Homo sapiens: one gene and its partners. The protein of the gene in region 1 interacts with the protein of each later gene in a pairwise test. Each region holds a gene or a part of one and is shown on either strand. Other genes may lie near its edges. The genes, in order: ITPKB, IFT88, TRIM54 and PPP3CA.

Region 1 (7,993 bases):
CTGAAAATGCCCGATGCCCCGGGCTTCTGGAAGGAGAAGGAGAAGGCCTGTTGGCACGCGCAGCATTCTGCTCAAGAGGGCAAAAGCCCAGTATCTACCTCGTGGCACTTGAAGAAGGGAGAAACTTCTAGAGTGGTTCGAATGGCCTTCAGCCGGTCCCGATAGGCGATCTGGGAATAGAAAGAGGACCAGATTTTTAAGCGCCGCGTGGGGAAGGGCAGTGTCAGAACACCCATGCGGCCTCTAGTGGTCCCTCCCGTGAATGTGCTTTACCCTAAACGCCGGACATCTAGAGGCAGCTTCCTGCGAGCAGGGCTGCTGTGGCGTCTTTCTCAGCATAAATGTCAGTACCTTTGACTTTTGAAAGGACAGGGTAAGAGAGAGAACCACAAATATCTCTCCCAGTGCCCTCTCCATGGAGCCCTATAAACCCATGTCAAGCTTTGCTGGCCTTGGGGGGTGCCCCATCTTCCCCAGAAGCCAGCTCTGTGGGTCTCACCCCCGGGCTGCCTTGGGAAGCTCGTCATACACAGGTACACAGAGTTCCTCAATGCCTGCTGGAAAAGAGTGACAGCTGGCCGGGCCAGCCGAGCAGCCCCCTGGAGTCTTCAGCACCAGGAACAAACCCCAGGCATAGGAGGCATGTTCCATGGTGGCCACTGCTTAGGGGCTGAGATCCTCCCCTGCAAGGGACTCAGGAATTGGAGGACTTGGGCTACGAAAGAGTCAGGCACATTCCCCCTGCCTGCAGCCTCAGAGCTTGCCAGGAGCCAAGGGAAGCCTCCCCAGCTGGAAAAGGAAGATTTCCCAGTTCCAGCCGGTACTGAGTCTCCTTGGAGAAACGGCTGCCTGGTCCGCCCCCACTTGCTCTGCAGCTGCTGTGGACTGTTCAGAAGGTGCCATTCACAGGGGCTCCAGGGCCCGTGTCCCAGATGTGCCTGGATCTCTGACTGTCCCAGGGAGCCGTGCACTTGGGGCACAGTGGCACAATATTCCCTGACTCAGCTGGAAGGGTCAGTGCTCTGGTCCCTGTGGGCAGAGCATCTATCCAGTCTGCGAGCCGCTGCAGCAGCAACACACAAGACAGAACTTTGTCATGAACTTGTACAACCCACACTCCTGGACTCGGAGACAGCTCGCCAGCTCTTGCTGGCAGGGAGCAGCGTGACCTCGGGCACACAAGATGGGGACAAGCAGGTCTACCCACAGCAGGTCTGCTGTGAAGATTTGCTGCACGCTTGGCATGACACCTGGCAGACGGCGGGCACTGTTCTCTCTCTCAGGGCATGGGAAATGCTCTCTGGAGCTATGGGGCCGATGGCTAAGGGAGAGTCAGTGAGTGTCCGCCAAGCTTCCCCGCCTACCCGCCGCACGCCAGGGACAAGCACATCGCCTTCTTCTTTACTTTCCAAGCAGAAGCCTGGGGCCAGGATGGATACAAACCTTCCTGGGTACTAACTTCAGTGCCCTTGACTTTTTTTTTTTTTTTTTTCCCAGACAGAGTTTCATTCTTGTTGCCCAGGCTGAAGTGCAATGGCAAAATCTCAGCTCACTGCAACCTCCGCCTCCCAGGTTCAAGTGACTCTCCTGTCTCAGCATCCCAAGTAGCTGGAATTACAGGCATGCGCCACCATGTCCGGCTAATTTTTGTGTTTTTAGTAAAGATGGAGTTTCACCATGTTGGCCAGGCTGGTCTCAAACTTCTGACCTCAGGTGATCCACCTGCCCCAGCTTCCCAAAGTGCTGGGATTACAGGCGTGAGCCACTGTGCCCGGCGTGCCTTTGACTTTTGAAAGGGCAGAGTGAGAGAGCCACAAAAGTCTCTGCCAGTGGCCTCTCTACAGAGCCCTACGAACTCGGGCTGGGGTGTGCTGTCCCTGGGGGTGCCTTGTCCTCCCCATGGGCACCTCCAGAGTAGACACAGTTGTCCCTCCCTGGCTGGCTGGAGAGACCCTCTCTGGAGGTGCCAGACTCACCAGGATGTTATGGTTTCCTTTAGTGAACTCTCTGAAGGCCTCGGTGACCTGCTCCCTCGTTTTGGTCTTCTTGAAGTCCCGGTTCACGGTGCCGTCTTCTTTCTGAGAAAGAGAACACCCCACCCAGGAGGGGGTCAGCAGGGACCCTCGGGCAGAAACTGTTCTCACCCACCCAACACCACAGAGCAGGCGAGCCCCATCTGAACCTGGGGCAGGGCCAGTGGAGGCACCCAGGTGTCCACGTATGGCGCATGGAGGTGGCGTGCACAGCAGAGGGGAGCCTGCCCTGTGCCCAGACACAGGAGAACGCAGAGGGTGGCGCTGACATCCCCAGGCGAGTGAACAGTGGTAGGAAAGGCCCGGAGGTGTGAAGGGCATCCAGGCTGAGGATGGAGGAGCATGACCCGGGGCTGGCCTGTCCTGGGTGCAACAGCAGGGCCAAGAGAGAGGGTCGGCCTCGACTTCCCACTCTGGGGCCCGGGCCCTGGAACCGGTGCCCGGAGGTCCCTGCCCGCCAGAGGCACCTCCCCTCAGCACAGGGAGGAGAGACTTGCTCCCGCCCTGAGCTCAGCTTGACTTCCTTTATAATCTACCATCTCTTCTTTCACGTTTTCTGAAAGCCAGGATCCAATACAGCCCTGCCCATCTCTGCTCCCTCGCCCACCCCACTCCCATCTTCTTGGCCCCAGCACTATCTCTGTTCAGGCTGTCCTGGGCCCTCATGTGGGGCTTTGCTGACCTATGAGGAAATCTGTTCTTTAGGGACAAAGGGAATGCTCCACCAGGAGTCCCAACAGTGGGCCGTGTCTGCCCTCAGGCTGGAGAGTACTTCAGCTGTGTCCTCACTGTGGCTGCCTTCGACAGGACTGGCAGGACCTGGGGCTGAGGGAGCAGCCCTGGGTGCAGGAGGGGCCGAGAGCCGGGGGCTGTGGGCAGTGCACCCCAGGCAGAGCCTCTTAGCTAAGGGCGGGGCAGGCAGGTGATGGTGAAGACAGCTGGCTTCTCTCTGAGTGGGAAGACAGGCTGTCGGCTGTTCTGACGGCTGGACAATAGACAGAGACCAGGAGCACATCCTGCTCGAGAGGGAGAGGTGAAGGGAAAGTGGATTGTTTCTAATAAAGAAAGGAAAGCGAGCGTTAAGGAGAAGGCGGATGGGTACGGAATTTGCATCCAGTCTCAGAGCTGGATGCAAAAAAGAGGGAAGGGCTGGTTTCAAAAGACAAAGAAGGGGGCAAATGCCTTTCTCAGCCCAGAGCTCGCAAAGCAGCTGTCCCGGGGGAAGGTAAAAACTTCCCCACATGCCACCGTGGGCAGCGAGCCATTGACAGCTGCGGAAGCTACGTCTAAATGCCATCTGAAAGGAGGCTCAGGGGACCCTCCCATCAGGACCATCGGCTGCCCAACCCTGACTCCAGGCTGGACACTGGAGATGATGCAGACCATGACTGGACAGAGAATGGGAGACCCGACAACCCCACAGGGACTGCCATCTGCTCAAGAGGGACAGCTTCTGAGACCCTGAGGGGCCGGCGCCCCAAAGCCCGGCTCTTGCAAATTTAACAGCAAGGGTGCACACAGGGGCCCAGGGACAGGGAGATCATCCAGACAGTCACCAATCCAGACAGTGCCAGTTCCCCAATTTATTCTGGGGAAAGTAAATCAACATTTGAACATAATCATGTATAGGAAGCTTCTGTGTGCCCATAGCCAGAGCTAAGAACTTTCCTGCCAGATACACATAGGTACAAAGGGATAGAAGGGAAAGAGCCATCATTTTGTAAACCACAAACACAAAGTAAATATATTAATTAGGGGAAAATTACATTTACTTATAAAGTTTGTCATGTTGTTTCTTTGGAGCTTATGTTTCTATTTCTGTTCCAATAAATATTTTAAAATTTCCAAAAAAAGATCGAAGAGCAAAGCAGAGAGAATGCAGTTTCTCAGAGACCCTGGCTCCAACATCAAAGGCGGTCAGCATGCTCCTCCCTTCCCCGAATTGTCTGCCAGTCCCAGTTTGCAGCCATGGCAGAATGAACCAGCTACCCCACAGGCATCCCGCAGGTGCCTCTCGCCTGGCTTTCGGTGCCAGGCACCGTCTGGGCTAAATGGAGAGTCCTCGGCAGAGGGCTGACAGCTGGGCAGGGCTAGAAGCCACTCTGCTCTGAGGCCTGAGCCCCCTACACAGCCATCCCGCCTGAGGAATAGGCTGATGTCTCCAAATGTCTGGCCTTGGGGCGGGCCACCCACATTCTGAGCCTGTGCCTGGAGAAGCTTACAGCTTCCAAAGGGCGCTGAGAGAAGCCAAGCCCCCTGAGGTGGGCACGGGTGGGGCCCGAGGCTGCCCTCACTCGCCGGCCTCACCTTGATTCCCTCGATCCTGAACCCCAGGGTGGCCGTGGAGCTGATGGTCTCCCGCCACTGCATGTACCGTGGCTTGGTCACAGCCCGCTGTGCTTTTTCCTCCTCGGTGGGGGCCTCGGGGTCCACCTCGATCATCTTCTGGTACATGTCCTTCCGCAGGCTGGGCTTCTTCCGGGCCTTCGTGAGCTCCTCCTCCAGGTAGGTCCTACGTGGGAGGGAAGGCGACATGAGGGCCGAGGCCTGGGGCAGGGCTCACCAGCAGCTCCTTTCCTGCCTGGTGGATGAAGGTTTGGGGCGTGTGTTGCCCAACAGCTGCAGTCAGCTCAGTGCCCTGAGTCAAGGCACGTCTTTCCGAGGGGACGGCAGACTCTGTTCCAGCTGGGGCTGGCTCTAATTTTTCTTTTCTTTTTTTTTTAGACAATTTTTTTAGTAGATAAGGGAGTCTCGCTATGTTGCCCCGGCTGGTCTCAAACTTCTAGCCTCAAGTGATCCTCCCACCTTGGCCTCCCAAAGTGCTGGGATTACAGGTGTGCACCACCACCCAGCCTGGGGTTGGCTCTTGATCCAGGAGAAAAGGTGCAGCCTCACTGAATCGGACTGCCTTCACTTTCACTCCAAGCCCATCGGCTGGCCTCACAAAGCCCAAGGAGCTCCTCCTCGGGAGACCCCCACAGGAACCAGCAGAAGAAGGAAGACGGAGGCAGGGCAGCAGGGGGTGTCGGGGGTGGCTGGTCCTGATCCTGCTGCTACGGTGGAGCTAAGAGAGGGGACTGGGGGCAGGGTCTACTCAGGGCCCCACTAGATCCCCTTGGCTGCCTCGGCCCTTCCATAAAGCGAGGGCTTCCAAAGCCAGAACCTGTCCTGGTGGGAGAAGTGGTCTGTCCTCAAGTCCCCATCTCTGCTGCTCTCAGGCAGCCTGAAGGCTGAGCCTGCCCATAAGTGTCTCTGGCTCTTTCCAAAGAGGTGAAATCTTCTGGAGCACAAAGTTCAGGTCAGAAAGTGGCCTTGGAAGGGGTCCCAGTGTGGATGGAGAAGGCCGTATTGTGGGGGAAAGGCAGGGGGCTCCCTCAGCCTCTGCTCATCCCAGAGACATGCCTGGTGCACCCCACCCCATCGACACCAGGCCTCCTCATAGGTGAGCCCCCAGTCCAAAAAGCCTGAGAAAATGCTTCCAACTCAACTGCCTCACGGCCCTGGCCTCCACACGAGCAGCTCCAGCTGAACTGGCGGGGACCACCTAGACACTGGGGAAGGTAACAGGGGCAGGGACAGCAGAGCACTTGAGCAGCCGGGGGCTGAATCGCTGGCCCTGAGCTGCCGGGACACGCCACCTCCCCCAGCACACAGCTCTGCGCTTCTACCTTCTCCAGAGCAGAGGTGGGGTGAGTCATCCCACCCCCGCTCCTCTGCTCTCCTTTTAGAGCCCCAGTCTCCCTACACAACAGGCTCAGAGGCTGCCCACAGCCCTTGAGGAGGCAGAAATCAGCAGTGTCAGTTGCAGGATGGGGAAGTTTTCTCCCCTTTGCCCTGTGTGGGCGGGAGCTGCCCACAGAGGCCCCGCCCGCCTGCCCTCCACCTGGCCCTCCACTCTTCCTGCATCTGTCTCCCAGGCCTTGTTCCAACACTGCCCACCAACTTCTCCAAGTTGCTGGTTTGGGACCCAGAACAGACTAAACAAAAACTACAGCCTCTTAAAAATGACAGGCTTTAGAAACCACTGTATTAATTGAAATTTGCACGGAAAGAAAAGGGAAGAAAAAAACAAATCCTTTGGGTGTGAACTTAGGCCTGGCTGGTTAGGACCTTCCAGGAGGTGATGAGGGCTGGAGGGGGAAGTCAGTAGCTTTGGGTTGGGCCCTTGCATGCACACACAACCATGTGCGCACATACACACACATGTGCTCATGCACACACATGCACATAAACGCGGACTCCTGTGCACCACTGCACACACACAGGTGCACCCATGCAGGACACGCACAGAGCACACCCCTCACATGCAGAGCCAGGTCAGTGGTGACGGGGGCATTGAGGCAGGGGCTGCGTGTGCATCCATGTGTGTACTGTGTAGAAAAGGGGCAGCCAGGCTGTGGGAGGGACTCCTGAGGGCGCTGTAGGGGACCGCATGGTGGGTGGCTGCACTTCTGCAAAGAGCTCTCAGCACCCCCTTAAACAGGAAGCAGACCTCAATGTGAAATCCCTTTTCACATGGCCTTTCTCCAAAAAGGGCCCCCGTGGCTCAAAGCGGGCAGTCACTCACTGCCCAGGAGAGGAAAGAGGCTGGGGGGAGATGTCCACAGGGGGTGCCAGCTGGATGGTGGGGCGGGATGCCCACAGGAAGGTGAGGCTCAGCCCCTCCCCACACTCCCCTGCCTGCCCGAGACAAAGTCGAAGCTCCAAGCCATGCAGGGAAGCAGAGACCTGCTCGCCCACTCACAGGACGCTGGGGGAGGAGGGGACTCAAGATCAGGTGGAGGAAGTGCTCCTTTGAGACAGGCCAGCCCAGGGAGCCAACAGGTGGCAGGCGAAAGCCACCCAGAGCTCCTAGGTGCTAGGGGCGGGCTCTCACCTGCACTCCCCAGGCCCCTGGTCCCAATGTCAGGAAGACAGTGTTGACTCTCCAGGACAAGTCACAAATCTCAGAGCATGCCCCAGAGCCACTGAGCACATGTCGGCGGGAGCCAGAGTCCCAAGAAGCCCCGACGTGCAGACGCCACCAGCAACTGCATCACATTCTCCTTAGTGCCACCCTTCTGCCCCCGCCATGCCCAGCATTGTTTGGTGACCGGCCCTTCCCTTTCTCTGTGACATGTCTCAAACTCTCTTGCCCTGGGACTCAGCATGTGAGGTAACCCTGGGCTCCAGCCTCCTCACCCTGTCATGGAAAGGCCACATTCTAGAGGTGACCATGAGCAGCCAGTCTTGGGAGAGGCCCTGCAGCCAAGGGTTCTGGATGAACGCATTTGGGGGAAGGCACAGTCCATGGCCCAAATGGAACTAGCCTGGCACCCCAGGGAAATGCCATGGAAGCTGGGTCCCACACAGCCCCCTTGGGAAGGGCTGGGCTGCAGCTGGGGGCCTGATTTGCAGTCAAGCAAGCCTGGTGCAGAACTGCACCAAGCTGCTGCCTGGCTGGGTGGCCCTGATGAGTCACTGAACCTCCTGGTGACAGAACCCTCCTGCTTACACTGGAACATGACCCATCTCCCAGAATGGCGGTGAGAACGCAATGGGATAAATAATGGAAGCATCTAGCATAGCCCTTGGAACAAGAAGGGTCCTTAGGATTTGTGTGCAGGAAAGATCGGGCTGGGTGCACCCTGCTTCTGGGGAGACCTTCCTCTTCCCCTCCACACATACTCCTCTCTCATCCTCTTCCCTCTGCCTGCCAAGATGGGTTACATGGGTACCAGCCACGGTCACTCTAGATCTCTCTTGAGAGCACTAGGGTGCAATCAGAGAGAAGCTGCGGAAGTCAAGCGGCTGGGTGGGGGCAGCCCTGGGGCAGGAAGCGGGGCTCCTGTCCCCAGCAGGAGCAGGCAGGTTCTGGGGCAGCCTGGCCCTGTGCTTGGCTGGCTGTGTCTTTGGGACAGCCGACTTCCAGAAATGCCCAGCCAGTGTTCTTCACACAGGCCGTACTTTTTTGGCCAGGT
Region 2 (7,993 bases), on another chromosome or scaffold:
ATACCTCAACGTGAAAAAAGTCATGTAACAGACTCACAACTAATATACTGAATGAAAAAAAACTGAAAGCCTTTCCTTTAAGATCTGGAACATGCCAAGGATGACCACTGTCACCACTGTTATTCAACATAGTACTGGAAATCCTAGCTAGTGCAATCAGGCAAGAGAAAGAAATAAAGGGCATCCAAACCAGAAAGGAAAAAGTCAAATTACCCTAGTTTATAGATGATATGATCTTATATTTGGAAAAACATAAAGACTCCACCAAAAAACTATTAGAACTGATAAATTCAGTAAGGTTGCAGGATACAAAATCAACCTACAAAAATCAGTAGCATTTCTATATGTCAAAAGTGAACAATCTGGAAAATAAATCACGAAAGTAATCCCATTTAGAATATCTACGAATAAAATTAAATATCTAGAAATTAACTTAACCAAAGAAGTGAAAATATCTACAATGAAACCTATAAAACATTGGTGCAAGAAACTGAAGAGGACATAAGAAAATGGAAAGATGTTTCATGTTCATAGATTGGAAAAACCAATATTGTTAAAATGTCCATACTACCCAAAGTAATCTACAGATTCGGTGCAACACCTATCAAAATACCAATGTCATTATTCACAGAAACAGAAGAAAACATCCTAAAGTCTATATAGAACTACAAAAGACCCAGAATAGCCAAAGCTGTCCTGAGCAAAAAGAACAAAACTGAAGAATTACATTACCTGACTTCAAATTACACTATAGAGCTATAGTAACCAAAACAGCATGATACTGGCATAAAAACAGACAGACTAATGGAACAGAATAGAGAACCCAGAAACAAATCTAGACATCTACAGTGAACTCATTTTTGACAAAGGTGCCAGAAACATACATTAGGGAAAAGACATTCTCTTCAATAAATGGTGCTGAGAAAATTGAATATCCACATGCAGAAGAATGAAACTAGACCCTTATCTCTCACCATATGCAAAAATCAAATAAAAATGGATGAAGGACTTAGAAATCTAAGACCTCAAACTATGAAACTACTAAAAGAAAACACTAGGGAAACTCTCCAGGACACTGGACTGGGCAAAGATTTATTGAGTAATACCCCACAAGCACAGGCAATCAAAGCAAAAATGGACAAATGAGATCACATCAAGTTAAAAAGCTTCTGCACGACAAAGGAAACAATGAAGTGAAGAGACAACCCACAGAATGGGAGAAAATATTTATAAACTATCCCTCTGACAAGGGATTAATAACCAGAATATGTAAGGAACTCAAACAACTCTGTAGGAAAAAATCTAATAATCTGATTTAAAAATGGGCAAAAGATCTGAATAGATATTTCTAAAAAGAAGACATACAAATGGCAAGCATGTATATGAAAAAGTGCTCAACATTATTGACCATCAGAGAAATGGAAATCAAAACTACAACGAGATGTCATCTCATTCCAGTTAAAATGGCTTTTATCCAAAAGACAGGTAATAACAAATGGTGGTGAGAATGTGGAGAAAAGGGAACCCTCATATACTGTTAGTGAGAATGTAAATTAGTACAACTACTATGGAGAACAGTTTAGAGGTTCCTCAAAAAACTAAAAATAGATCTATCATATGATCCAACAATCCCACTGCTAGGAATATACTCAAACGAAAAGAAATCAGTATGTACCAGGCCGTTCTTGCATTGCTATTAGGTTGGCGCCAAAGTAATTGCAGTTTTGCAATTAAAATGGCAAAAACTGCAGTTACTTTTGCACCAGAGAATGCTTGAGATTGGGTAATTTATAAAGAAAAGAGGTTTGATTGGCTCATCGTTCTGCAGGCTGTACAAGCATGATATCAGTATCTGCTCAGTTTCTGGGGAGGCCTCAGGGAGCTTTCACTCATGACAGAAGGCAAAATGGGAGCAGTCACATCACATGGGGTGAGGATGGCACCAAGAAGATCATGCTAAACCATTCATGAGAAATCCACTCTCATGATCCTATCGCCTCCCACCAGGTCTCACCTCCAATGCTGGGTATTACAATTCAACATGAGATGTGCGTGGGGATAAATATACAAACTCTATCACAGTATATCAAAAAGATATCTGCACTCCCATGTTTGCTGCAGCAGTATTCACAATAGCCAAGATTTGGAAGCAACCTAAGTGTCTGTCAACAGACAAATGGATAAAGAAAATGTACATATATACAATGGAAAACTAGCCATAAAAAAGAATGAGATCCTGTCATTTGCAATAATGTGGATGGAACTGGAGGCCATTCTATTAAGTGAAATAAGCCAGGCACAGAAAGACAAACATCGCATGTTTTCACTTATTTCTGGGATCTAAAAATTAAAACAACTGAACTCAAGGAGATAAAGAATAGAAGGATGATTACCAGAGGCTGGGAAGGGTAGTGGCAGGGGAGGGGGTGAGAATGGTTAATAGGTACAAAAAAAAAAACAAAAAGAAAGCGTAAGATCTAGTATTTGATAGCAAAATGGGGTGACTATAGTCAATAATTTAATTGTACATTTAAAAATAACTAAAAGAATATAATCGGATTGTTTGGAACACAAAGGATAAATGCTTGATGTAACAGAAACCCTATTTACCCTTATGTGATTATTACACATTGTATGCCTGTATCAAAATATCCCATATTCCCCATAAATATATGCACCTACTATGTACTCACAAAAATTAAAACCAAAAAACAAGACATTTCAACTTTAAAATTTTTCTTAAAACCCTAATTTTAAATACTTTCAGGTGATCTAAGTCTTTTACACATTTGGATAGCTAGTGCTGAAGAATACAAGTATATATAATTCACCTTAATTCATTTTTGTAACCTGTCTCATGATCTTTCCTTCTGCTGCAATTATTATTTTTGGTGGAAGTCAGTAGAGTCTTCTGTAATAGCACTTTTCTAGGTTTTTGAATCAGCTTATTTAATCTAAAGCATAATAAAGTAGAACTCTCAAATCCACAGTCTTCATAAACCAGCTGGTTAACCAAGACCAATGTAAAAAACAACTAGCTTTTGTTACCTCGATATCATAGATTGGATTGTAGTCATTATAGCCGGAATAAAGATCATCTTCATCTGTCTCTGGAGCCAGGTGCACATTTTGCATCATTTGTACCTAGGAAAAACTGGCAGTGTAAATATGTTCTTGGTATAAGAAATATATATATATATTTTTTGAGATATGTCTTGCTCTGTTGCCCAGGCTGGAATGCAGTAGCACAATCACGGCTCACTATAGCCTTGATCTCTCTGGCACAAGTGATCCTCCCACCTCAGCCTCCCTGGTACTATAGGCTTGTGCCACCACACCCAACTAAGTTTGAAATTTTTTGTAAAGATGGGATCTCCCTATGTTGCCCAGGCTGGACTCAATTTCTTGAGCTCAAGTGATCCTCTCACTTTGGCCTCCCAAAATGCTGGGATTACCAGCATGAGCCACCACGCCAGGCCAGAAATAATTCTTAATTCCAATAAAGTATAACTATTTAATGACATTTGTGGTCAAATTTATCTATATATATTTTCATGGCTTCAATTTTTTTCACATCAAATTCCCAAAACTAGATGTCAAAACATTAAGTTATTGTCCTCATTTCACATTTATTTCACAACTACGACACTGAAAGAACAGTGACAGGCACTAGAGGGGGTACAATTGATTGTCCTGATTTTCATGGAAGCTTAGTATCAAGTGCAGAAGAAAGGTATGCAACAGTCAATTAAAATGCAAGGCAGAAGCCACCACATACCCATCAGAATGTGTAAAATTAAAAAGACCAACAACACATAATGTCAGCAAAAATGTGGAGCAACCAGAGTATTCACACGTTGCTGATGGGAGTGTAAAATGATACACTTTGGGAGAAAAGTCTTGCAGTTTCATAAAATTAACTTTTATTAAAAGTACCTTTTATCACCCAGCAATTCCACTCAAAAATATTTACTCAAGAGGAATGAAAACATATGTCTACAAAAAGATTTGTATAAGAATGTTCATAGTAGCTGTCGACCTAAAGAAAGGAATTGAGGCATAAAATACAATTCTAAAAAGTTTACTTGAGCCAAAATGAGGACGGCTGCCTGCCCAGAACACTCAGACTTCATGTAACCTTGGACAGGCGCTCCATTTGGCCTTTGTTTCAAGCAGATCTTTAAAGGCAAAAAAGTGGGGCAGGGAGTGGGCTGATACAAAGCTGTCTGTCAGAAATTCTCACTGGTTTAAAAAAATAACGTTGATTAGTGATTGGCTACATTGTATGGGTTATAGTATCCAGACAGTGCCATTGTTAGATTAATTTATAGCTACTTATGGCAATAGCAAGCAAGTTTCAAGACATGATTACTTAGCCCAAGAAGGTAAAGGAGATGTGACTGCTGTTTCACTCCCACGCCTCTCTGGACCTGGTAATTTAGAGGAGAGTCTCATTCTTCAAATTAAACCTTTCTTTTCTTTGTCATAGCTTTATTCATAATACTGAAAAATCAGAAACAAACCAGATACCCATCAGTAAAATGGACAAGCAAAATGTGGCATACTTACGCAATGAAGTACTATCCAGCAATAAAAAAGAATCCCAATTATGCTGAGTGAAAGAAGCCTTACATAGAGTGTACATTATGCACTGTTTCCTTTATATGAAGTTCTCAAACAGGCAAAGCTAATTTGCGGTAGAAAACCATCAGAACTGAGATCGCTTCTTGGGGATGGGGGTTAGGGATTGAATGGAAAGGGACATGAGAGAATTTTCTGGGGTGATGATAAATGTTCTGTATCTTGGCAGGGGTTTGAGTCGCACAAGTGTATGCATTTGTGAAAACTCAGCAAATATACACTGCGATTTCTGCTTTGTAAATTTTACCTCAAAAGTAAGAACTATAAACAAATATTGAACTATATAATTGATACGCATGCTGTTATTTCAGGGAACATGTAATAGCTGTAATTTAGCTTAAAATACATAAAATAAGACAGCTTAGGCCGGGCGCCGTAGCTCATGCCTGTAATTTCAGGACTTTGGAGGGCCAAGACGGGTGGATTACTTGAGGTCAGGAGTTTGAGACCAGCTTGGTCAAGATGGTGAAACCCCATCGCTACTAAAAATACAAAAACTAGCCGGGCATGGTGGTGCACATCTGTAATTCCAGCTATTTGGGAGGCTGAGGCACGAGAATCGCTTGAACCCAGGAGGCAGAGGTTGCAGTGAGCTGAGATCATGCCACTGCACTCCAACCTGGGTGACAGAGTGAGACTCTGTCTCTAAAAAAAAAGATGGCTTGATAGATGGATTGAGAGATAGGTAAATGGATAAGTACATGATAAAGCAGCTATAGAAAAAGGTTAATGGTGGAATCTAGGTAGCAGGAGTAACATTCAACATAAAATTCTTTAAACCTTGCTGCATGTTTGAAAATTTTCATAATGAAATGTTGAGGGAAAAAATGCAAGACAGAAAAAAAGATATCAAAGCAAAATGAAACAGAAGAGTGAAAGCTGATCATACAAATTTGAGTCATTCTTGTCATACCCAACTAAAACAGAGTCAAGAAGCTGGGGTGTGTTGGTGGGGAGGCACTCAGGACACATAACATTGCTTGAAGAATGGAATTCTCTGCAAGTCTGGCTGCTGAAACTGGCTGCTAAAACCTGAGGCCAATTTTATTTATAGCTGCTGAGATAACTTGCTGCAAATATAGGACTAATTGTGCCCACCACAGCTACCCACCAATTAGAACTTGCCAGCTTCCCAGAACCTCACTAGTTCCAGTGAACTTTCTCAAAGAGCACTACATGACACTTCTCCTTTTGATAAACCTCCAACCTTCTCTTTGTTCTTTGGACATACCAAAGACCACCTGGTCCTCAAACTGCAATTCTTTCTTCCCAAATAAAAATGTAAAATTTCAAGATTCATCTCTACATTTTGACTTGGACAGAAGCATGGGAGAAATGAAATTACCATATAGATATACTGTAAATCTAATAATTACTAAAGAATCTGGCAAGGATTCCTGGAAGTATCATTCAAATCAAGTCAATATTTTAGGCAATTTGAGGGGTGGGAGGTGGAGGAAGGCTAATTACCCAAGAAATGTAGTATTGCTAGTATTCAAGAAATGTATTTTCTTTAAAGCAAATACATATTTTCTTAAGGCCTGTACATTTTAAGTGCACCAGCAAATTCCTAAGAAATTTTCAGCTTAGGCTGGGCGCAGTGGCTCACGCCTATAATCCCAGCACTTTGGGAGGCCGAGGCAGGCAGATCACGAGGTCAGGAGATCGAGACCATCCTGGCTAATATGGTGAAACCCCGTCTCTACTAAAAATACAAAAAAATTAGCCGGGCATGATAGCAGGCACCTGTAATCCCAGGTACTCAGGAGGCTGAGGCAGGAGAATGGCCTGAACCTGGGAGGCGGAGGTTGCAGTGGGCCGAGATTGTGCCACCACACCCCTGCCTAGGCGACAGAGCCAGACTCTGTCTCAAAAAATAAATAAATAATAAAAATAAATAAATAAAAAATAAATTTTCAGCTTAATCTTTTTCTCAGCATAATACCACATATATGTGGCTTCTCATAACCTTTAAAAATTATTTATATATTTTAAATACTAACAAAATTATTAGTTTTTGAACTATAATTCATATACCATACAATTTAACTTTTCAAGGTGCAGTGGTTTTTAGTATATTCACAAGGTTGTGCAACCATCCCCAGTATGTAATTCCAGAACACTTTCATCATCCCATAAAGAAATATGGGGCCTGTTAGCAGCTCTCCATGCCTCCCTTCCCTTTCCCCAGTCCCTGGCAACCATTTTCTGTCTCTATGGATTTGCCAATTCTGGACATTTCATATTAAGGAAATTACACAATATGTAGCCTTTTGTGTCTGGTCTCTTTCACTTAGCATAATGCTTCCAAGGTTCATCCACGCAGTAGTATGTATCAATATTTCATTACTTTTTATGGCTAAATACATCTGCAACATTTTGCTTATCCATTCATTAGTTAATGGACATTTGAATTGTTTCCACTTTTTGACTTTTATGAATAACATCACTATGAATGTGTGTGTACAAGTTTTAGCATGCATATATAGGTCCAATTCTATTGGGAATATATCTAGTAAAGGAATTGCTGGATCATATAGTAACTCTATGTTTAACTTTTGGAGGAACAGCTAGACTGTTTTCCAAAGTGGCTGCACTATTTTACATCCCACCTGCAATGCATGAAGTTTCCAATTTATCCATGTCCTAGCCAACATCTGTTACTGTTCCTGTTTTTGATTATTGCAATTCTAGTGAGTATGAAATGGTATCTCATTGTAGTATTGACTTGCATTCCCCTGATGACTAATGATGTTGAGTATCTTTTCATCTGCTTATTATCCATTTCTATATCTCTTTGGAGAAATGTCTGTTCAGATCTTTTGCTCATTTTTTTTTTTTTTTGAGACGGAATCTTGCTCTGTCGCCTAGGCTAGAGGGCAGTGGCGCGGCTCACTGCAAGCTCCGCCTCCCAGTTTCACGCCATTCTCCTGCCTCAGCCTCTCGAGTAGCTGGGACTACAGGCACCCGCCACCAAGCCCGGCTAATTTTTTTATTTTTATTTTTATTTTTATTTTTAGTAGAGATGGGGTTTCACCGTATTAGCCGGTATGGTCTCGATCTCCTGACCTTGTGATCCGCCCACCTCGGCCTCCCAGAGTGCTGGGATTACAGGCGTGAACCACCGCGCCCGGCCAGCTCATTCCCAAAAATCAGGTTATCACATGAATTATAAGGATCCTGTATATATTCCTGATACTAAACATTATATAAATGATTTACAAATACTTTCTCCCATTCTGTACATCATTTTACATTCTTTGTACTATCCTCTGAAGCACAAAAGTTTAAAAAAATTTTTTTTTTTTTTGGGACGGAGTCTCGCTCTGTCACCCAGGCTGGAGTGCAGTGG
Region 3 (7,993 bases), on another chromosome or scaffold:
ACCCCAGAGGAACAGCGGGTGAGGAGGAAAGTGTACTTTTCCGCCCTAGGGGGCGCGCCTTTGTGGCTCCGGGGTTGGGTTGCACCGAGGAGTGGGGGCTCCACGCTACCCGCAGGGAGGGCAATCACTGGGGGAGGGGACGCGAGCACACCAGCCAGGCCCCACCCCAAGCCCCTCAGGCCGCTCTCACCTTAAGGCCCATCGGGCGGCTCTCACCTTAAGGCCCATCCGGCCGCTCTTCCTCCGGCCCCGCGCTGCCCTCCTCTCCGTCTGGGGCCACCTCCTCTTCCTCCCCGGAAGCGCCTGAGCCCAAGGAAGGCCTGGTGAGGTGGAGTCCCTGCCTTTACGGCCATCGTGCCCGCCGCACCCCCCACACAGAGGGTCCGAACCCGTCTCAGCGGCCCTCGGCCACCTCCTTCACCTGGCTGGAAGTCGATGGTCCGCAGCATTTCGGCCACGTGCTCCACCCTTACGGTGAATTGCTCCATGCTCTCATAGCCTGGCTCCGGCCGCCCTGCCAGCTCCACCTTCGACATGGCCCCGACCCTGCAGTGGCCACACGGACTCAGCTGGCAATGCCCCAGCACTCTCAAGCCCCACCCCAGCCAGTGGAGCAGTGCAGCCCCCTCCTTTCCCTTCCCGCTATGCCTACTCACTTATTGATCAGCTCCTTGGCCTGCTGCAGGGAAGAAAAGGAGGGTGAGAGTAAGCACTGGGCCAACCTGGGCAAAGTCCCATTTCTGAATCTCACCACAGTCCTGCGGGGTAGGTGGGAAGGCACGTCCCAATTCGTTAAGCAGAAAACGAACTCAGAGGGGGTGACTTGCCCAAGGTCGTAGGGGCAAGCAGGTGCAAGAGACAAGACTTGAACCCGGGACTCCAGGTACCAAGGCCCTGACTCCAGCCACTGTGCAGCGCTGCCACCCTCCCCTAGAGCCCACCTGGAGATACAGCGCCATTTGTGGCTCTTCCATGGACTGGATGGCAGACTCCACCAGCTTAGAGGAGGCCTCCAGGTGGTCGCCATACTGACGGATGAGGCCGCGGACGCGCTGCAGCTTCTCCTCTTGCTCCCGGGCCAGCGCCTGCAGCAGCTCACCCTTGCGCTCCTCCAGCACTGCGCACAGGCTCTCAAACCTCTGGTTTAACAACTGCTTCTGCCTCCGGCTATTGTCCTAAAAGATGGGGAGCAAGGATGAGGGAAGGCGTGGCTGAGACCCGGTGGCTGGGAAAGCACAGGGTACTCACAGAGAACCAACACAGAAAGTGACCCATCCGTAGTGACACTGTGAGTTAGTGGCTGAGCCAGAACCCAGCCCAGATCTTTTCCATAATAAAAACACAATGCTTTAAAGTAGCTTCACTGATTGCTGTCTATATCCCTAGCCCTGGTTTTTATTTGCATTATTCCATTTAATTCTCAAAAAGAACCCATGAGGTAGCTGGTGTATCATTATCATCATCACTGTTTTATGAGGTTAAACAAAACCAAAGCACAGAGAAGTTAAATAACTGGATTAAAGTTTTGCGGCAAAGCTGGAATGCACACCCAGCAGCCTGGCAAAAGCACCTCCCACCACTCCCAGGACCCCAGAAACTTTCAGACCAGTTTGGCGAGAGGTCAGAGAGGAGCAGTTCTCTTGGGAGCCCGGGGTCCGCAGGCTAGCCAGTTGCTGTTCCTCCCTCCCTCCAGCCCAGGCTCACCTCGATAGTCTGGCACACCTCCTCCATCTGTGTGATCACTGCTTGCACGCGGTCATTGCCTGCCACCAGCATCGCGATGCCATCGCTGAGCTCACTCTGATACACACACAGGTCAGCACTCAGAGCTGGGACCTGGCCTAGAGCTACACCCCTCACCCCAGCCAGGGTTGCCTAGGAGAGGGCTGGCCCTTCCACCTCACCCCCCATAAGGGCATCTACAGCAATCTAGAAGGCTTGAACCATCAAGAGGTACGGAAGCACATTCTAGTGATTCTGGAAGGAGGTGGAGAGAAGCCCTCCACCACTAAGTGGGGAAGGAACAGACAGTCTCCAAACATCCACCAGATACCAGACACTGGGCTAGATACTTTATCTGTAGATTCATTTCTTGCATCGATTCTGAGAAAGTCTTCAAGATTATCCATTGGCATAATATTGCCTCTTCTCTATTCTCTTTATCCTCTCATTCTGGGAATCTGATTAGACCTGTTAGACCTTCTCACTCTCAGCCTTCTCATCATCTCCCAGAACTGCACGTTCTGTTTTTCTTTCAGTCCTCTCATACTGGTCACTAGTTCTGTTTTCAGACAAATCTATCATTCAATTCATTCGTTGATTTTTTTTTAAATTTTTTTTGAGACGGAGTCTTGCTCTGTCACCCAGGCTGGTCTCGAACACCAGGCCTTGTCCTCCTGCCTCAGCCTCCCTAGTCACTGGGTTTACAGGTTCCAGCCACCATGCCCAGCCATCTGTTGAATGTTTTATATCTATCTATCTATATATATATATATATCTGTATATCTATATCTATCTATCTATCTATCTATCTATATATATATATTTGAGACAAGGTCTCACTCTGTCACCAAGGCTGGAGTGCAGTGGCTCGATCTCAGTTCACTGCAGCCTCGACCTTCCAGGCTCAGGTGATCCTCCCACCTCAGCCTCCCAGGTAGCTGGGACTACAGGCGCATGACACCACGTCCGGCTAATTTTTTATATTTTTTTGTAGACGGGGTTTCAACATTTCCCCAGGTTGGTCTCCAACTCCTGGACTCAAGTGATCCTCCCACCTCAGCCTCCCAAAGTGTCGGGATTACCGGCGTGAGCCACCACACCCAGCTACATGGTTGGTTTTTGATATTCTATTATTGTTTGGTTTTTAAAATTTTTCATCTTTTTTTAAAAAGCATTTGATTTATAGTGACTTCCAATTATTTAATAATTCCAATATCTCAGTTGCTTTTGTGGGGGGTCCTAAATCTGTATTTTTTGTTTCTGCTGACTTCACTCATGGATTACGTTTCTCTGTGCACCTTCAATTGTGATCTAATATTTTATTGATATTAATTAATCTAGGGAATACCTACGGGCCTAAATTGTGCATATTTTCCTCTAGGCAGTATTTGCATTTGCCTCTGTTGAAAGCCAGGTGGCGCAATTTACTGCTTTAGCTCCTAGGATCCTAGTTTAACCTACGGTCTCCGGAAACTTTTTTTTTTTTTTAGACGGAGTCTCTCCCTGTTGCCCAGGCTGGAGTGCAATGACGTGATCTCAGCTCACTGCAACCTCCGCCTCCTGGGTTCAAGCGATTCTCCTGCCTCAGCTTCCCGAGTAGCTGGGATTACAGGGCCTGCAACCACGCCCGGCTAATTTTTTGTATCTTTAGTAGAGACGGGATTTCACCATGTTGGCCAGGTCTCAAACTCCTGACCTAGTGATCCGCCCGCCTCGGCCTCCCAAAGTGTTGAGATTACAGGCGTGAGCCACTGCGCCCAGCCGGGTCTCTGGAATCTTAGCTGCAGGTACCCCTCCTTTTAGGGGTTTGGAGGAATAGTCTGGTCTCTCTAGCTCAGTGACATTGCCAGCACTGGTCCTCTGCGAAATGCTGCCTTTTCTGTGCTTGCCACTCAGGGTTCTGCTTTCAGCTCCGCCTTTTCTCTTCGCCCCTCCCCACCCCCACTGATTTCCTTTGCTTCTATGTACCAAGCAATATAATTTGAAAATTCTGTTTTACACAGAATCTAGTTGTGTGATAGAGAGGACCCTGCAAGTATCTCACCCACCATACTGAAGTCTCTGCTTTCATCCATTATCGAATTTTATCCTTATAGCTACTTTCACAAGTAGGCATTTTCACCCTAATTTTACACATGAGGAAAGTGAGGGCCACAAAGGTCCAGTAACATACCTAGGTGACACACCAAGTCAAGCACAGAGCTAGGACTTTGACTCCAATCTGCTTGACTTTTATTTTATTTTCGAGACAGAGTTTCACTCTTTTTGCCCAGGCTGGAGTGCAATGGCGCAATCTCAGCTCACTGTAACCTCCGCCTCTGGAGTTCAAGTGATTCTCCTGCCTCAGCCTCCCGAGTAGCTGGGATTACAGGCGACTGCCACCATGCCCAGCTAATTTTGTATTTTTAGTAGAGAAAGGGTTTCACCATGTTGGCCAGGCTGGTTTGGAACTCCTGACCTTAAGTGATCCGTTCACCTTGGCCTCCCAAAGTGCTGGGATTACAGGCATGAGCCACCACGCCTGGCTTAATCTGCTTGATTTTATTTTTATTTACTTATTTTATTTTAGGTATTATTATTATTATTATTTTTAGACGGAGTCTCGCTCTGTCGCCCAGGCTGGAGTGCAGCGGCCCGATCTTGGCTCACTGCAAGCTCTGCCTCCCAGGTAAACAATTCTGCCTCAGCCTCCCGAGTAGCTGGGACTACAGGCGCCTGCCACCACGCCCGGCTAAGTTTTTTGTATTTTTAGTAGAAATGGGGTTTCACCGTGTTAGCCAGGATGGTCCCGATCTCCTGACCTCGTGATCCACCCACTTTGGCCTCCCAAAGTACTGGGATTACAGGCGTGAGCCACCGCGCCTGGCCTATTTATTTATTTTTGGATGGAGTTTTGCTCTTGTTGCCCAGGCTGGAATGCAATAGCGCAATCTCAGCTCACTGCAACCTCCGCCTCCCGGGTTCAAGCGATTCTCCTGTCTCAGCCTCCCAAGTAGCTGGGATTACAGGCACATGCCACCACACCTGGCTAATTTTTGTATTTTTAGTAGAGACAGGGTTTCATTATATTGGTCAGGCTGGTCTCGAACTCCTGATCGCAGGTGATCCGCCCGCCTCGGCCTCTTAAAGTGCTATGATTGCAGGTGTGAGCCACCGCCCGGCCTGCTTGACTTTAAAACTAAGTGGAGTAACGCTTTGGGAGGCTGAGGTGTCAGGGGCGTTTGAACCAGAGCAACTCCATCTTGAATAGGGGCTGGGTAAAATGAGGCTGAGACCTACTGGGCTGCATTCCCAGATGGTTAAGGCATTCTAAGTCATAGGATGAGATAGGAGGTCGGCACAAGATACAGGTCATACAGACCTTGCTGATAAAACAGGTTGCAGTAAGGAAGCCGGCCAAAACCCACCAAAACCAAGACGCCAATGAGAGCGACCTCTGGTGGTCCTCACTGCTACACTCCCATTAGCTCCATGACAGTTTACTAATGCCATGGCAATGTCAGCAAGTGACCGTATATGTTCTAAAAAGGGAAGGCATGAATAATCTACCTCTTGTTTAGCATATCATCAAGAAATAACCACAAAAATGGGCAACCAGGCTGGACCCGGTAGCTCACACCTATAATCCCAGCACTTTGGGAGGCCAAGGAGAGTGGATCACCTGAGTTCAGGAGTTTGAGACCAGCCTGGCCAACATGGTGAAACCCTGTCTCTATTAAAAATACAAAAATTAGCCAGTCATGGTGGCGGATGCCTGTAATCCCAGATACTTGGGAGGCTGTGGCAGGAGAATCGCTTGAATCTGGGAGGCGGAGGTTGTAGTGAGCTGAGATCGCGCCATTGCATTCCAGCCTGGGCGACAAGAGCGAAACTCCATCTAAAAAAAAAAAAAAAAAAAAAAGAGGGCAACCAGCAGCCCTAGGGGCTGCTCTGTCTATGGAGTGGCCATTGTCTTATTCCTTTACTTTCCTAATAAACTTGCTTTCACTTTACTCTATGGACTAGCCCTGAATTCTTTCTTGCGCGAGATCCAATAACCCTGTCTTGGGGTCTGTGTCAAGACCTCTTTCCTCTAACAGAGGCAGGAGGATGGCTTGAGCCCAGGAATTCAAAACAAGCCTGGGCAACACAGTGAGATCTTGTCTCTTTTTAATATTGTATGTTTGTTTTTGAGACAAGGTCTCACTCTATCACCCAGGCTGGAGTGCCGTGGTGCAATCATGGCTCACTGCAGCCTCAACCTCCCGGGCTCAAGTGATCCTCCCACCTCAGCCTCCCGAGTAGCTGGGACTACAGGCATGCCACCATGCCCAGCTAATTTTTTGTAGAGACAAGGGTCTCACTATGTTACACAGCTCAGGCTGGTCTCAAATTCCTGGACTCAAACAATCCCCCTGCCTCGCTCTTCTAAAGTATTATTAGTACTACTACTACTAATAAATATTATTATTAGTACTACTACTACTAATAAATATTATTATTAGTAGTATCCTCCCAAAGGATTACAAGTGTGAGTCACTGTGCCCTGCCTGAGACCCTGTCTCTATGTAAAAATAAAAAATTAGGTTCGGGCGCAGGGGCTCACGCCTGTAATCCCAGCATTTGGGAGGCCAAGGTGGGTGGATCACCTGAGGTCAGGAGTTCCAGACCAGCCTGGCCAACATGGTGAAGCCCCGTCTCTACTAAAAATACAAAAAATTAGCTGGACATGGTGGTAGGCGCCTATAATCCCAGCTACTCTGGAGGCTGAGGCAGGAGAATTGCTTGAACCTGCGAGGCAGAGGTTACAGTGAGCCGAGATCGTGCCATTGCACTCCAGCCTGGGCAACAAGAGCAAAACTCCATCTCAAAATAAATAAATAAACAAATAAATAAATAAATAAAATAAAATAATTAGCTGGTCATGGTGGCACATGCCTGTAGTTCCAGCTACTTGGGAGATTGAGGTGGTAGGGATCACTTGAGCCCAGGAGTTCAAGGCTGCTGCAGTGAATCACAATCATACCAGTGCATTCCAGCCTGCGCGACAGAGATCCCCACATCTCTTAAAAAATAAATAAATGGAGCTGGGCGCAGTGGCTCACACCTGTAATTCCAGCACTCTGGGAGGCCAAGGTGGACGGATCACATGAGGCCAGGAGTCAAAAAAAAACCAAAAAACAAAAAAGCTGGGTGTGGTGGCACATGCCTGTAATCCCAGGTACTTGGAAGGCTGAGGCATAAGAACAGCTTGAACCCGGGAGGCTGAGGTTGCTGTGAGCCAAGACTGCACCACTGCACTCCAGCCTGGGCGACAGAGCGAGACTCCATCTCAAAATATGATAGATAGATAGATAGATAGATAGATAGATAGATAGATAGGGCTGAGTGCGGTGGCTCACATCTATAATCTTAGTGTTCTGCGAGGCTAAGATGGGAGGATCACTTGAGCTCGGGAGATCAAGGCTGCAGTAAGTTGTGTTTGTGCCACTGCACTCCAGCCTGGGCAACAGAGTGAGATCCTGTTTCTAAATAAATAAAGAAATAAGTAAACAAAAGATAAGTGGAGTAAGAGGCTGACACTGAGACCCTGTCCTAAGCCCCCATCTCTCACATATCTACTCCCTCCCCTGTTTGATACCTTCTGGCGTTTGTAAATGGTGGGCAGTGGGGCCACCTCACAGTCCTTGTGGGCACCGAAGACCTTGCAGAGAGAGCAGGTGGGCACCTCACAGCTCAGGCAGTAAATATTGATCTTCTCTTCTTCATGCTCCTCGCACATGAGGTGCTGCTCAGCCTTGGAGTGCAGCGGCCTAGAGAGGAGTGGGCAGGGGGAGGTGGACCTTAAGCATGAAGGGTCCTAGGAATACCTTCTCTTCAGCCTCCACCAACTGCCACCACCTTCTCCGCCCCTGCAGCTAGTGCTGTGGCTGAACTGGTGAGTACTTCCACAGAGCTCTGAATTTGGGGAACAGAAGGAGCTAAGAGATAGAGGAGGCCTGGATCCGAGAACAGTCTGTATTACAAGGGGGCAGGGAAGTCCCACAGGACAGGAAGTCTTGGAGGGTTAGCGAGGATCTTGCTGGTGGACTGCCAGCCTCTCCCAGGAGGAGAGGGTAGGAGTGAAGTACTGGCTAGGGAATCAGAGACTGCCCTCTCTGGGAGGCCTGAGGCAAGTCCCTCTCCGGATCCAGTCCTATGGTCTCTAGACAGAACAGGCAGGTTGACCGTTTCAATCTCTCCCTTTTGGCTCTGATGGGTTCCTTGGCTGTGTCCCAAGCCCTGTCATGAG
Region 4 (7,993 bases), on another chromosome or scaffold:
TGGGAGGATAAAACTGAGGTGACACGATAGGAAGACAGTGAGGTCATGCAGAAACCTAATCGTGTTGCAGATTCCTTTCTGAAGTGTTATAAAATGTCATGTAATGGGTAAATCTCTAGCGATTTGTAAAATGTAAAAATTATTATAAAAATATTTTCAACTTGGCTTGTCAAAGTCCTAAAAATAAATATACTATGGTTCCTATATACTGTAAAGCTGCTTATTTTAATTTATCCAGGAAGCCTGATAAACAAATGTAAGAAGGAATTAAATGATTGATTTAACCAATGTAAAGTTGTTTTTCTGATCTGAGTTACAGAAACTGGTAAAACTTTTAAATGTGATAACATAATTGAATTAAAACAAGGCTGGTGTTGGATTTTTTTGGTACAGTTTTTTTTTTTTTAATACTGGAGTTTTTTTTAAGTTCTGGAGTACATGTGCAGAATGTGCAGGTTTGTTACATAGGTATACATGTGCCCTGGCGGTTTGTTGCACCCATCAACCCGTCATCTACATTAGATATTTATACTAATAATATCCTTCCCCTAGCCCCCCACCCCCTGACAGGCCCTGGTGTGTGATGTTCCCCTTCCCTGTGCCCATATGTTCTCTTTGTTCAACTCCCACTTATGAGTGAGAACATGAGGTGTTTGGTTTTCTGTTCTTGTGATACTTTGTTGCATTGGGGCAAAAATAATAGTTCTTATGGATTCCAGCTTCATCCATGTCCCTGCAAAGAACATGAACACATCCTTTTTTATGGCTGCATAGTATTCCATGGTGTATATGTACCACATTTTCTTTCTCCAGTCTATCATTGATGAGCATTTGGGTTGGTTCCAAGTCTTTGCTATTGTAAATAGTGCTGCAATAAACATGCATATACATGTGTCTTTATAGTAGAATGATATATAATCCTTTGGGTATATACCCAGTAATGGGATTGCTGGGTCAAATGGTATTTCTGGTTCTAGATCCTTGAGCAATCGCCACACTGTCTTCCACAATGGTTGAACTAATTTACACTCCCACCAACAGCGTAAAAGCGTTCCTATTTCTCCACATCCTCTCCAGCATCCATTTCCTGACTTTTTAATGATCGCCATTCTAACTGGCATGAGATGGTATCTTATTGTGGTTTTGATTTGCATTTCTCTAATGACCAGTGATGATGAGCATTTTTTCATTGTTTTTTGGCCACATAAATGTCTTCTTTTGAGAAAGAAACTACCACCCTGATTAGTCAGTAACCATCAACATCGAGGCAAGATCCTCCACCAGCAAAAAGATTATGACTAGCTGAAGGCTCAGATGATCATGAGCATTGTTTAGCAATGAAGTATTTTCTGATTAAGGTATGTACATTTGTTTTTTTTTTTTTAGATACAATGCTATTGTACACTTAATAGACTACAGTATAGTGTAAACATAACTTCTATATGCACTGGGAAACCAAAAAAATAATGACTTGCTTTATTGCAATATTTGCTTTATTGTGGTGGTCTAGAATCAAACCCTTAACATCCCCAAGGTACACCTGTATATGTATACATATCTATTTCACATTTATTTACTCACTTATTCATTTATTTATATTTTCATTTTATAAATGCTAGTGAGCCTTTCATTTATATTAAAGAAGTAATACAAACATTATAAATAAATCAAACACATGGACTGATAAATCCTAGCATTATGATGCAAACGTGTTCCAGAGAGCAAGTTCTCTATTCTTACCTGTAGAAGTATGAACACCCCCTGACTGTGTTGTGAGTGAAATGTTCCTGAGTCTTCTCATTTCCAAAATCTTCCAGGGGGTCTGACCACAGGATATCACACATAGGTCCATATGCAGGTGGTTCTTTGAATCGGTCTAACTAAGAAAAATAGAAGACAGAGAGCAAAATACTAATCTTTGGAAACTTAGAATTCTGACAATACAAGAAACAAGCACTGTGCAGAACCCATCCTCTTCTCCCCAGCTACAGCTCAGGGTGAAATGTCCTCTACCTCTCTCTCTCTTCCTGTCCTTCTTCCTACTCGTTTTCCTATCCTTCATCTCTCTCCAATTTTCTTTCCAGCTTCCTTCTGATGAGATCATTTAGTATCTATCTTCATCTAACCCTTTACCTTCCTCTTGCCTCTATTATCTCTAGATTTCGCAGTTTCTCATTTCTCCTATTCTACATTTTATCCTTCTCTCCTTACTTACTTTATCTATCCAAATGTTTTTTTCATGACCAGTTATTATGACTCTACCCCTGTTTCATTTATTGAGAATTACTTTCTTTGGGAAAATTCCTATTACTGCCTCTATTAAACTGTGATTTAGAAGTTTGGATGGAAAACAACTCCTAGTTTTCATGCTTATGTTATTTTTTTATATTTAAGAACATGATTTTGAGAAAAGATGGCTTTTACTTTAAAAGTAGCCACTTGCTATATGATATTTTGGATACTATTTCATTATGGGCTATCTAGGTTTCTAATGATAAACTACAAGCCTCCTGTAGTTGATCTTAGTGGGTACAAATATGAGTAATGATAAGCAGTAAAATAAACTCAACTTTAGCGGGTCATTCTTCAGTTCACAGTTCTAAGCTTTATAATTTTACCTGAAGCCTTCATATGAAATCAATTTTCCAGCTATAAATGTTTAGTGAAGTCACATTTCAATTTTAAAAGGTGCATTTAGAAGGCATATTAGAAATATCATCACTGGAAATAACATATCACGATCAATTTTAAACACTTTAGTTTATCCTGATTTAACTGCAATTAAAGGATCTTTGGTGAATCAGCAGATATTATAAAGGCTCTTGAATAAAAGCATGCAATAGCTTTGAAAATCTATTAAGAATTGATATTCTTCATATTGATATTTTTAAAAATCCAATGAAGACAAGTGAACATATTTTGCTTACAACTAATCAAATTGTCTATTTTTTTTTTCTGGGACATACAAGATGTAAGTAATGGTTTTGTTGCACACTACTTTTTATTAGTATCTATAGAGAATGAGGCAATATTTTATGTTTTCAATACCCAATGAAAAACTTCAATAAAACAAGACTACATTTCAACCATTATGTTAGCCACAAAATATTCATTGCAAACTTAAACTTGTTTAAGAGATTTAAATAATTTATGCTCTTGGAACAATACATTCAAGAAAAATAATACTTGTCCCTAAAAATACAGAACTTCTTTCTGAAAAACAATAACTTATTAAGGGTAGGACAGTAGAGGAGGGGAAAGTTTCTGATTAATATGAATCCCCAACTAAAGGTCTGCAAAGCTACCAGAATATAACATTTATTCTGGAAAAAGTATACAGTGCATTCTAAAAGTTAATATAATTGACAGTAAAAATAAACAAATACAAAAAAACTTGATATATGGCAAGATAAAAACTTAAAAATCATTTTCTGGCCATGTGCAGAGCTTAATGATATGTATGAAAATTGAATATAATATCTAAAATATCCTGGGAAGTAAGTCCTAGGGATATTAGGTGATATTTTAAAAAATCTACTTAATTTACGATGTGAAGTTTATTTACTTAAAAAAAATCCATCAGATTACAGAATGAGCTAGTTATATTCATGCAGAAAGAAACATTTCTGTTTTTGAGACGGAGTCTCCCTGTGTCACTCAGGCTGGAGTGCAGTGGCACGATCTCGGCTCACAGCAACCTCCACCTCCCAGGTTCAAGAAATTCTCCTGCCTCAGACTCCTGAGTAGCTGGGATTACAGGCGCGCGCCACCATGCCTGGCTAATTTTTGTATTTTCAGTAGAGATGGGGTTTCAACATGTTGGTCAAGCCGGTCTCGAACTCCTGACCTCATGATCCACTTGCCTCGGCCTCCCAAAGTGCTGGGATTACAGGCGTGAGGCACCATGCTTGGCCCAGAAAGAAACAATTTTATACTGAACCAGCATCACATCTCTACTGTACTTTAAATATAGAGCAAAGACCAATGCTCTATGCTCTATAGAAGTGTGAAATAGTGTCTTGCAAAAATGGACACAAAGACACAGAGCAGGAAACAAGGTTTATTTATTGTGCTTTCGCTTGAATTTTAAAATAAAAAGCATGCATTTTCTTTCCAATAGGAAAGTAAACACATTATTTTTATACTTGAACACTTGAACCTCAATGATAGGAAGAACTTGAATGTTTTATTTTACCTGAAAATAATTTTTCTCTAAAAACTAATGAACTTTAAAAGAATATTGAGTTCATGGTAGTAGAGACTTATGGTATGCAAATACATTCATAATTTACTAAAGTATTTCCTCAAAACCATGAGTTTCATTAACAAAAGTATTAAAGAAACACTACAAATGAGAGCTATATGAAAATGGTTATTCATTTTGTAGTAGAGGTTTACAACCTTTTTGCTGGTGATTGCGTCTTAAACAAAATAGTACAATAGCCTTATCCTTTCTATTTATTCTCTACAGTATAGAACTCTATTCAGTGTATCAGTTTTGTTCAAATAATTAAAACACTATTTTGAGGGAAGTTTTCACTAATCCCCCTTTGAAGGAGGACACTTAGTAAGTTTCTCATCTTCCATCCAAGGCCATGAAATTTGATCAAGGCAAGAGAATAAAACATAAATGCATGTCTTTCATGCCCATCATTTGCTAACAGAAACTACTATACTTATTTGTAATTTGACTTTTCATTTTCCAAACCTATTTCAATAAGTGGTTATCAGGTTAATATGATACATGGATACATGAATAGATAAAATATTTGCTTTCCTTCTCCACTGAACACAATGGGAAAACACTGTTTACTAATTTAATAACTTATGGCAGCTGATAGAATTAACTTGCAAATGTTCATCATATAGACTTCTCAGACTTAGCAATCAAGTTTCCAAACTCAGAAGAAATGGAAAAAAACAATTAAATGGCAATCAATCAAACAAGTGACACCAAGGGAGTCTTTGTATGAATGCCCCTAATGATAAGCAAGATCTAGAATTTGAACTGTGCCCATGGTTATTCTTAAGTGAACCTATAACTTAAGAAATAAATTCTGTACACCTTGAGATTAGTGCATCACTTATTTGAAGCCAAAGTCTACCTATCATACATTAGGCTTAAATATATACTGAGTAGTATGTATCTTTAGAAGAAATCTCAGCAAAATTCCAATCTTTATAGTTCAAATACAGTAATTTAGAACAATGTGACCAATTTATTCTTGCTAAAATTACTGGTGAGAATAATAATAAAAGGTTAGAATTATTTTCACCCCTCTGTTCTATGGGATAAGTACAAGCGTATTTTCTTAGGTCTCTAAAAGTAGAGGAAAGAAGATAAATACAGTTTTCAACTGTTTATAATTCCTCCAGAAAAAATTTGGCTTAGATTTCCTAGATAGAAAGCTTAATGGTGGGCACAAATTTTCAATAACATATGTTATAAATATCAATGTGAAGAAATTATCATACTTTAAAATAATTCCAAGTAATATTATTTTAAAATGACCTAAGAAAACATTTACATCACTTTCTCCCTTTGGTCCGATTTTGGCACCAAGAAAAATACACTGCGATTTTTTATTACTCTCTATCTTTTACATCATTGCAATCAGAGTTAGAAACATACCAAAGAAATAAAAGATTGTCTATCTATTGTACTACATAAAACTATCCCATGTTACTAGATTTACTCAAGAAAGAGACACAATCCACTTCCACATTCAATGTAACTCATCTTTTTGCTGGTTTAAACAACTGTTAATAGCCAATGCTAAACTGGAGTATTTCTTAAAAACTTCTTACAAATACTTCTTAAAAAGTCCAGTTTTTCACTCAGCCACTCAGTAAAATTAATAAAATATTATCACTGTCCTTGTTAGATTGCTACTTAAAAGTCTCAAGTTGTAACAAATAGATTTTTAAAAAACCATAAAATGAGCACAGTTTAATGGTTATGTTATGATATTTTCCCAAGGGCAAAGCAACATTTCTAGCATAACACATCATGAATATACAACGGATTGTTTGAAAAAAGCCAAATGGAAATGATAAGGCATATTTTTTTTAGAGGTCAAATATTTTATATTTCCAAAGACACATGTCAGATGGTAAGACCAACCCTGAGGTTGTAGAGATAAAAATTCTTCCAAGTATAAACATATCTCTCTTTCTAGATAAAAATTTAACACAAAGGAGCGATTCATGACCACTTTAAATTATTTGAACTCAAAAGAATAAAGTCAGTGATAAAGGCAGGGTAATTAATGTCTTCTATTTATTACTGTAGCGCACAAAATGATTAGACTTGGAAAATAACAAAACTTACTTTTCTGATATCATCTAAAGTGTTAATCTCTGGAGACAAACCACCATGCACACACAGGAACTGTTGGTTCATCAGGGCAGCCAGGGGAAGGCAGTCAAAGGCATCCATACAGGCATCATATACGCGTTCTGAATACTTTATTTTACCTTTTAGAAGTGATTAAAAGAATACTTATGATTTATAGGCAGGATCATTTCACTGAAATAGTTTTGGTTTTTTGAGAAGTTTTCTTGCTAGGACCCTATTATTAACATAAAGGCACATACTACAAAATTCCAAAACATAATTAAGATTTTCTGAAAGTAACATATTAATCTTTTATATCTAGTATTTCCTGTTTTTGTCATTTATTAATTCATACTTTATAATTTTCATAACGTTTTGTATAGCAAGAGAATTTTTATATACATTCTGGCTATTTATCTGCAGACGTCTCACCAAAAAAATGTACATGAACAACTGGAAGACCAATAGAAAAACAGCCATAAAGCTGCTTGATATTCCTTAACGATTTTGTAGAAAAGCAGATGGCAAGACATTTCCTAAAGCTGTTTCTATCTTACTGCACATTGCTTTTCCCATGACTTATATCTAATGTTTTAAGAGGAGAAGTCTTTATGCTCCATTGAATATAGGACTAAATGAAAGAGAAAAATATTGATATGTATAGAGAGATTCCCAGCTCTTCCATTTAACTGTATTTATACATAAAACAAAAATGTAAGGTTTTATACCTTTGTAAGATTCAGTGAATAATAAGAAAAATTGTAAGGAGGAAAAAGAAATTGAAAAAAGCACTCCACACTCCTAGTGTCTATGTCTAAAGAATGACATCATCTTCAGTTTTATAAGATTCACTAGAAGCTAGTATTCATTTATTGGGTCCAAAACAGAGGCATAGGGTTGAATTTGCCCTCCATTTGCGTTTTTTGAGTAATGTGAGATTAATGAGTAGAATTATTGTTCCAAACAGTAGCATCCCTAAATCACTTGTTTCTTAGGATAAATTACATCAAATCTTAATTCAAATTCTTCAATCACTTTATAAAGAAGTTCTAATTTAAAAAGAAATTCTGAATTCTCATAAATGTCCATGCTTAGAAAGAAATATAGGATAATATGAAAGAGTGTCACTTTAAGTCTTTGACTTTAGGCAATAGATCATATTGTATGTATCTTATTATTGATTAAAATTACTTTTTAGCACATATAGTGTTAAAGGAAGGAGGTTGAAGTATACTTACATTCTTGTTTAAATGTGAAATACTCTGTTAGATGTCTACATTCATGATTTCCACGAAGTAAAAACAGTGTTTTGGGGTAGAGAATTTTCAAGGCCCACAAATACAGCACACACTGAGAAAAATAAAAATAATATAAAAATAAATATTTTTCCTTAACACTTATGCATTTCATTGCTCACATATCATAAAGACATGAATAAAATGTATTACCATGACCAAAAGTCCCCCAAAAGGCTGGAACTTAGTAGAGAAGATATTGACAATCAAATAGGAAACATTACTTTGGTAAAAAGCCAAGGTCCATCTACACCTAAAACATACATACACGCACTGAGGATCATATACCACAAGAAAACAATGGATTACATATGGTCAACAGAAGGAGAATTATGTGACCTGAGGAGAGTGGGAGTTTAAA

What was found.
Region 2: the proteins of ITPKB (region 1) and IFT88 interact in binary tests that used the Homo sapiens proteins (3 or more experiments, as listed by UniProt).
Region 3: the proteins of ITPKB (region 1) and TRIM54 interact in binary tests that used the Homo sapiens proteins (3 or more experiments, as listed by UniProt).
Region 4: the proteins of ITPKB (region 1) and PPP3CA interact in binary tests that used the Homo sapiens proteins (3 or more experiments, as listed by UniProt).

What each region holds. Positions count from the first base shown.
Region 1 is NC_000001.11:226,637,581-226,645,573, forward strand, and holds part of ITPKB (inositol-trisphosphate 3-kinase B), read right to left. Parts: intron 4,546-7,993; coding exon 4,341-4,545; intron 2,079-4,340; coding exon 1,977-2,078; intron 171-1,976; coding exon 99-170; intron 1-98. UniProt on the Homo sapiens protein: Catalyzes the phosphorylation of 1D-myo-inositol 1,4,5-trisphosphate (InsP3) into 1D-myo-inositol 1,3,4,5-tetrakisphosphate and participates to the regulation of calcium homeostasis.
Region 2 is NC_000013.11:20,569,531-20,577,523, reverse strand, and holds part of IFT88 (intraflagellar transport protein 88 homolog), read right to left. Parts: intron 4,504-7,993; exon of another isoform or gene 4,373-4,503; intron 3,155-4,372; exon of another isoform or gene 3,145-3,154; coding exon of another isoform or gene 3,139-3,144; coding exon 3,049-3,138; intron 1-3,048. UniProt on the Homo sapiens protein: Positively regulates primary cilium biogenesis. Also involved in autophagy since it is required for trafficking of ATG16L and the expansion of the autophagic compartment.
Region 3 is NC_000002.12:27,298,766-27,306,758, reverse strand, and holds part of TRIM54 (tripartite motif-containing protein 54), read right to left. Parts: intron 7,515-7,993; coding exon 7,343-7,514; intron 7,230-7,342; coding exon of another isoform or gene 7,104-7,229; intron 1,801-7,103; coding exon 1,705-1,800; intron 1,176-1,704; coding exon 942-1,175; intron 680-941; coding exon 657-679; intron 547-656; coding exon 422-546; intron 304-421; coding exon 218-303; 3' UTR 217-217; exon of another isoform or gene 191-216; intron 1-190. UniProt on the Homo sapiens protein: May bind and stabilize microtubules during myotubes formation.
Region 4 is NC_000004.12:101,092,036-101,100,028, forward strand, and holds part of PPP3CA (protein phosphatase 3 catalytic subunit alpha), read right to left. Parts: intron 7,688-7,993; coding exon 7,576-7,687; intron 6,478-7,575; coding exon 6,332-6,477; intron 1,881-6,331; coding exon 1,741-1,880; intron 1-1,740. UniProt on the Homo sapiens protein: Calcium-dependent, calmodulin-stimulated protein phosphatase which plays an essential role in the transduction of intracellular Ca(2+)-mediated signals. Many of the substrates contain a PxIxIT motif and/or a LxVP motif.